Homo sapiens: one gene and its partner. The protein of the gene in region 2 interacts with the protein of the main gene of each other region in a pairwise test. Each region holds a gene or a part of one and is shown on either strand. Other genes may lie near its edges. The genes, in order: DEDD and BATF2.

What was found.
Region 1: the proteins of BATF2 (region 2) and DEDD interact in a two-hybrid assay, tested with the Homo sapiens proteins (one large-scale study listed by BioGRID and IntAct).

Annotation. Positions count from the first base shown.
Region 1 is NC_000001.11:161,122,358-161,126,171, forward strand, and holds part of DEDD (death effector domain-containing protein), read right to left. Parts: intron 3,089-3,814; exon of another isoform or gene 2,170-3,088; 5' UTR 2,106-2,169; coding exon 1,781-2,105; intron 1,590-1,780; coding exon 1,482-1,589; intron 865-1,481; coding exon 718-864; coding exon of another isoform or gene 628-717; intron 167-627; coding exon 1-166. UniProt on the Homo sapiens protein: A scaffold protein that directs CASP3 to certain substrates and facilitates their ordered degradation during apoptosis. May also play a role in mediating CASP3 cleavage of KRT18. Regulates degradation of intermediate filaments during apoptosis.
Region 2 is NC_000011.10:64,987,359-64,990,936, forward strand, and holds the end of BATF2 (basic leucine zipper transcriptional factor ATF-like 2), read right to left. Parts: intron 2,920-3,578; exon of another isoform or gene 2,785-2,919; coding exon of another isoform or gene 2,716-2,784; intron 2,455-2,715; coding exon 1,771-2,454; 3' UTR 587-1,770; downstream 1-586.

The DNA of each region.
Region 1 (3,814 bases), on a different chromosome or scaffold from region 2:
TTGATGTCACAGATGATGGAGCCCAGGTCCCGGGACTTGAGGATGGTGTTGGCCTGGTTAAAGCGCTCAAACTGGCGCTCAAGTGGGTCCTGCTTGTTAGAGAAGACATTGCCCTGCAGAGCAGTCTCATGCTGGCAGTATTCAGCCCGAACCCGCAGTCTGATGTCTGTTGGAAACAGAAGATACAGAGCAGAAGAGGTTACAGTAAGGGATGAGTTTACAAGCCAAGCTTGAAAACTGAAAAGCACAACAGAATAAAAAAGTAGGGAATATCACCTGACAGCTTCTCTACCTCTTCCCCAGGACTATTTCTATGTATCTCTGAAATCCTTGCCTGAATGCAGGAGGTTCCCTTAAACGGGACATGCCGAGGTCAGCACTGTTCCCATTACTCACAGGTAGCAACTTGTTTATAGGAGATATTTTCCTAATTACCAGGCATAGAAGTTCATTTTAATACTCGACTTGGCTCATCCTACAATAAGGATGTCATAACAACATCCCTGTGATGTAGTATTAACTAACAAGAGTTGAAATGTACCCTGCCACAATCATAAAGAGCAGTTCTTCCACCAGACACCAAACCATTCAGCCTCACTTTGCAATGGCAATCAAAGTGAATCTCACACTGAATAGCATAAACTGCCCAGTGTCCCAGCAGTTCTTTATATTCTCCTTCAAGTCTGCTCCATCTCTGGAACCCTTGAACTTCCTCACCACATGTCTGCTTCTCCTTGGGATCTGGTGTCACTGACTTCCGGCGTTTTCGCTGGCTCCCAAGTGTGGCTCTCCCTCGGGCTGGCCGCTTGCTACACATCTGAGGACCCGAAGTGGGGCAACACACCACAGGATAGTGGGGAGGCACTGACCAGAAAGTAAAAGGGAAGAAAACACAGTAGGGTAAAGGCAGAAATTCAAACACTTCTGTTGGAATGAGGAAGGAATCATTTAGACTTAGCACTAAAAGCAGTGGAAAAATGTGACTTGAAAAGACATGTGAGACCAGGTGCAGTGGCTCACGCCTGTAATCCCAGCACTTTGGGAGGCCAAGGCGGGTGGATCATGAGGTCAGGAGATCGAGACCATCCTGGCTAACACGGTGAAACCCCGTCTCTAAAAATACAAAAAATTAGCTGGGCGTGCTGGCGGGCGCCTGTAGTCCCAGCTACTCAGGAGGCTGAGGCAGGAGAATGGCGTGCACCTGGGAAGTGGGGCTTGCAGTGAACCGAGATTGCGCCACTGCACTCCAGCCTGGGCGACAGAGGGAGACTCTGTCTCAAAAAAAAAAAAAAAAAAGACAAGACATGTGAGAGCAAATACAGGACCTAGGAGAAATGTCACCTCGCCTGATTTTTTTTTTTTATGGGGCAAGATGTGGGCGCACAGCATCCTTTCATTTAAGCTGGCAAAGCCCAGAATGTGATGGGATCAGTGTCCTTTTACTTGATGATGGAAAGCAGGGGGAGTTAATGTCTTCTCACCTGTTTTAGAGGGCTGGGGAGGCCTTGGTTCTGGATCACTGAGGGCTCTGGGGGTCACATAGCGAATTGATGTCTCCTCCAGATACTTGTCTACAAGATCAGGGCACACTGTAGGAGGAGAAGTAATCATTCAGGAAAATATACACCCTTCCCTTCTGTCAGTCCAAACCCCCAGTGGGCCTCACAACTTACTCTAAGTACTCCCCAGGATCAATGTGTCCTCCCCTTTGGACGCCTATGCTGCTCCTTCCTGGCCTCCCACAACTCTTCCCTGATTCCAGCCCCTAATACTTCCTCACCAGCCCGTCTCCTCTTGAGGGTGACGTAGGGCAGCAGGTCGTGGCGAGTGATGATGCGCAGCAGCTGCAGCACCTGGCGAAAGTTACTTTCATCACAGCGGCCCTGGCGCTCCAGTGCCAATAAGAAGTCACGTCCATTTCGGATGAGTCCACGCTCGTGGTCATCAATGACATCAACAAAGAGGAAAGAAAGCACGCGCACATCTCTGTGTGTCAGATGAGTGCCCACGATGTCAAACATGCGGTGCAGGCTGTACAGCCCATGTTCCTGCTCACCATGCTCTTCTGGCCACACCTGGCTTGCCCGCCGCTTTAGGCCCGCCATGCTGGGGGCTCAGGTACGCAATGCTTTCCAGAATCCCTGCTCAGCAGCTGCAATCCCCACCGTACTGAAAGGGCAGGGAAAGAACCGATGAGACACTCAAGGGCAGGAACTAGTCTCATGCATTCCCATATTCCCAGTTGCTAACAATGCCTGGCACAGTATAGTGCTTTATACATGTTTATTAAATTTTTGAAGTGTTTGTTTAAAAATAAACACTGGCCAGGCACAGGGGCTCACACCTGTAATCCCAGCATTTTGGGAGGCCAAGGCAGGAGGATCACTTGAGCCCAGGCGTTTAAGACCAGCCTGGGCAACATAGGGAGACCCGTTTCTACAAAAAAAGAAAAAATTAGCTGGGCTTGGTGGTACACGCCTGTAGTCCCAGCTGCACAGGAGGCTGAGGTGGGAGGAAGGCTTGAGGCCAGGAGTTCAAGATCAGCCTGGTCAACATAGCAAGACCCCATCTCTACAAAAAAGAAAAAAATTAGCAAGGCATGGTGGCATGTGCCTGTAGTCCCTGCTACTCAGGAGGCTGAGGCAGGAGGATCACTTGAGCCCAGGAGTTCAAGGCTGCAGTGAGCCATAATCCTGCACTGTAGCCTGGGTGACAGAGTGAGTCCCCCATCTCGGAAAAAAAAGAACTAGTTTAAATTCTGACTGTATCACTGAAAGGCTGTGTAGCTGTGTGACCGTAAGCAAGTCACTTAACTCCAGATTCTCAGTGCTGTCATCTATAAACAGGGATGAATGAATATACACCTCAGAGTTGTTAAGAATCCAATGAGAAAATCACGGGTAACCCTTATATAAATGGTTGTGAAACATTTCAAAGATACAAGCATCCTTGGCCTTTGCAGCCCAGAATCATCCCTCCACATTTTTCCTACAATCCAACCACATCAAGAAATGATAACTGCTCAGAAAGTTTATCAATATTTACCAAAACTCATGGATTTAAAATAAACATTAAGTTTCTACAATAAGCATTCTTGTAATTCTATGCCATTTGTACTCCCTTGATCTTCACCCTATTTGGCAATATCAACTTTTTTTTTTTGAGATGGAGTCTCACTTTGTCACCCAGGCTGGAGTGCAGTGGTGCAATCTCGGCTCACTGCAACCTCCGCCTCCCAGGTTCAAGCAATTCTCGTGCCTCAGCCTCCCAAGTAGCTGGGATTACAGGCACGCACCACCACGTCTTGCTAATTTTTGTATTTTTAGTAGAGATGGGTTTTTACCATGATGGTCAGGCTGGTCTTGAACTCCTGACCTCAGGTGATCCACCCACCTCGGCCTCCCAAAGTGCTGGGATTACAGGCGTGAGCCACCGTACCTGGCCTTGGCAATACCACCTTCTAAGCTTTCCTCATGGATGTCATTTACCAATCCCCTATCAATGACCAATCACAGCTCCACATTCGTTATATAGTTTGGCTCTTGATTCACAAAGTTCCTCCATCGTTATGGGCTACAGGTAATACCAATGACGCAGCCATTAATCAATTCCCAAATTCAACAACTTTGACTCAAGTCACTCATACTTACTGCTCCACCAGACAGTACCATCCTATACTGTGCACTCTCTGGTCACACTCTCCAATCACACAATCAATCCTAAATTCCTGTTAATGCTACTTCTAGATATTTCTTAAATCTATCCTACCTTTCCACCTCCACTGCCATGGTTCAGATTACAATAATCTCTCACC
Region 2 (3,578 bases):
AAAAAAATTAGCCGGGCATGGTGGCAGGCGCCTGTAGTCCAGGAGACTGAGTCAGGAGAATGGCGTGAACCCGGGAGGCGGAGCTTGCAGTGAGCCGAGATTGCACCACTGCACTCCAGCCTGGGCGACAGAGCGAGATTCTGTCTCAAAAAAAGGAAAAAATTAGCTGGGTGTGGTGGTGGGCACCTGTAATCCCCACTACTTGGGAGGCTGAGGCAGGAGAATCACTTGAGCCCGGGAGGCGAAGGTTGCAGTGAGCCGAGATTGCACCATTGCACTCCAGCCTGGGTGACAAGAGTGAAACTCCATCTCAAAAAAAAAACAACATTAAAAAAAAAATCTCTCTGTCTTCACACACACACACACACACACACACACACACTCTATTGGTTCTATTTCTCTAGAGAACACTGACTAATACACCTGCGCAAGTCCGTCTCATCTCTGAGCCTCAGTTTCCTCATCTGTAGTATTGGAGGGAGATTAATTAGCTGGTTCATGAGGGGTTGCCCATCTCTGTTATTCTCTCTTTTTTCAAAGACTCTGTAGGTTACAAAGAGAGGTTTAAGTAACTAGGCAAAGCAGAAAAGATTGCAAAACACTTTATTTCCATCACATATGTGCCAAGACTTGTGTTCTGTATCCAGGAGTGTGTTAGATACTAACATAGTGTTTCATTTACATGTGTGTGAAACCTGGGTGAAGAGCCAGGGTTTCTCTCCCCCACCCGCCTCAGAGTGCTTGTCCTGGAATCAGAGTGTAAAACCCCCTCTTGAAGCAGACACCAAAACTGAACTTCCACCCGGTCATGGGCCCTGCTCTTCCTGCTGTCAGCCTAGTCCAAAGAGCAATGAGGGAACTGCTTAGGAGGGGTCTGAGGGTGATGAGGGCCTGGGGGCCACACAGGGGTGGGTGCTGTCAGGTACAAGCCCATCCCTGCCTGCAAATAACCTTGCACAGGGTCCTTCCTCATTCTTTCCTCTTCCTTTTTGTTTATGAGATGAATGGCTCTTCTGCTGTGGCTTTAGGGGCAGTGGGGAGGCAGGGAGCTATTTGGGAACAGCCTGGAAAGCTGACCCTGCAGAATCTCCCAGAAGCCTTGGTGTGGCTATGGGTACCCAGGCTGTAGAAATCCCAGATGGTCCTCTTCCAGACCTCTCCCCAACTCCAGCTCACAGTTTCAGCTTCTTGGCACTGAAAACACTACTAGGGGAAGCAAGAGTCCACTTCAGGGCTTCTGCTTGGCCTCTACCCACCAGGGCTTGGACTCTGGACCTGCCCCAGCTAGGTTGGGGTTTCTGGGACTGCATGGCTCTGGCCCTGGAATCACGAAGCAGTGGGGAGAGCCCTTCTCTGCTCTGAGCATGCAAACCTTCTCACACCAGCCCACGGTTTCCAGGATTTCAGCCCCTAGGATGCCTGGGCCAGGACAGGAGAAGGAGGAGCAGAGGGTGGTGTTTCGGGCTCCAAGAAAGTCTTCGTGACCTTGGACTTGTCACTTGGCTTCCCTGAGCCTCAGTTTCCTTGTCTGAAAAAGTGGAGTGATAATCTCGATTTCTCAGGTCAACTGTGAGGTTGAAATAAGATATTGGTGGTGACAGGGCCTGTCACAGTGGGAGGCATCAGTGGTGGCTTCCTTTTCGACTGTGAAATCCTGGGCCAGCTGGTCAGCCACGCAGGGCAGCACCCAGTAGTGAGGGAGGAGAGGCCCGTGTGCTAAGGCTGCTTCCTGAGCCCAAAGAAGGGGCCAACCCAGCTCCGAAGACCAGGTTAGAAGTGGACTTGAGCAGAGGAGAGCAGAGGAAAGGCCAGGAGAGGGTGAGGGCTGGGATCCACAACCAGCCCTTGCCAAGTGGCTGCTGAGAGAGCAGGTTTGTGCTCCCTGCTCTGCAGACGTGCAAGCCCCAGGGCAGAGGAAGGGTTGTCGGGAGAGGACCCCAGCTTCCCTCTGGTGGGATGCTCCAGCTCGAGGGGCTGTGGAGGGGCAGTTTGGGCCGTGAGGCTGGGCTGGAGGGCACTGAGCTTAGAGGAAGACCCCTGCAGGCTGGAACCAGTGTGCGAGGCAAACAGGAGAGGGCTGGGGGACAGCTGGACAGGAGGTTCAGCAACCACAGCGGGGCCAAGGGACAGTGAGGGCAGGGGGCACTGGAGGAGGCTGGGAGAATCATGAGGCTGTGGACCTGGAGAGAGCGGCTGAGCTGGGTAACAGGAACCCGGGGTCTGGAACAGCTCCAGCTGCTCCCGGCAGCCATGTTGTCCCTGTGGGCCAGGGCCCAGGAGCCCCTCAGCCTGGTCCCAGCAGCCCAGGAGCCCTGGAGCTGAGCAGGAGGCACAATCCATGGGGCACAGGCGCTCATGCACGTGCAGGGTCCGGCTCCACCACGCCAGCTCGGCCTGCAGGGACTGGATCTCCTTCCGCAGGGCGAGGTTGTCTTTTTCCAGAGACTCGTGCTGCTGCAGAGAAGCAGATGGGCGGGGAGGGGAACCTCAGCCAGTGTCAGGGGCCCCGCATGAGCCTTAGCCCCTTCCAGGGTCCTCAACTTCAGGAGAAAGATGCCACCACCATTGGAATAGCCAAGTGGGGTCTCTTGGCCACTCTCTGGCCAGCCCTTCATAACCACCTACCAAGTCTCCCCTGTCCCACCCTCTGAAGGGGGCTCAGATCCGCCTGCTGTCATCCCACCACTAGTGCCCTGAGCCGGTGCCATTTCTCACCTGGGATATGCACGGGCCTCCAACCCGTGTGTCCCCCAAACCACCTATTCTCTTGCCCACAGGAGCCATTCAGCAACCATGTCATTAATTGCAGGTTAAAGCCCTTTAGAGGCACCCACCAAATTCCCTGTGGTAGAATTCCAGGCCTGTGTAGTGGCTGCAGCTCAGACCTCCGGTCTCCTCTCTCTCGCCTTCTTTCTTGCTCCCCTCCCTTCCTGACCCTCACATGAACTCTGCTTCCCGGCCACATTTCCTGTTTCCTCTGCCTGGACACCCTTCCGCCGCCCTTCTCTGTGCAAATCCCAACAGGGCCTTCCCGTGGCAACCTTGATGTCATTCTGTCCTAGATTGCTTATTGCCACTGCCCTTTTGAGGGCCCAGAACTCGCCCCTACGAGCACTGTGGGAGGATTCAGGGGATTGTTTTACAGGTTGACAGCATGAGTGTGTTCGATTCTGCATCCCTGAATCAGCATTTATTAAGTTCTGTTCTGCTGAACGCCGGTTCTGAGAACCCCTGAGACACAATCAATGTGCAGTTCTAAATAACCATTTATGATGACAGTAATGGTAAAAATGCAGAAAGAATTTTATATCCACATCTCACAGGGCTGAATAAATTGAACGACTTCCTTCAGTCCCCCACCCCCTTTTCTGGACACTTTGAAAGAAGAAGTTGCAAAGGTGTTTTGCATAAAAATGTGGTTTTGGCCCTGGACTCAAAGTTCTTTTTTTTGAGATGGAGTCTGGCTCTGTCGCCCAGGCTGGAGTGCAGTGGCTCGATCTCGGCTCACTGCAAGCTCAAGCTCCCAGGTTCACACCATTCTCCTGCCTCAGCCTCCTGAGTAGCTGGGACCACAGGCG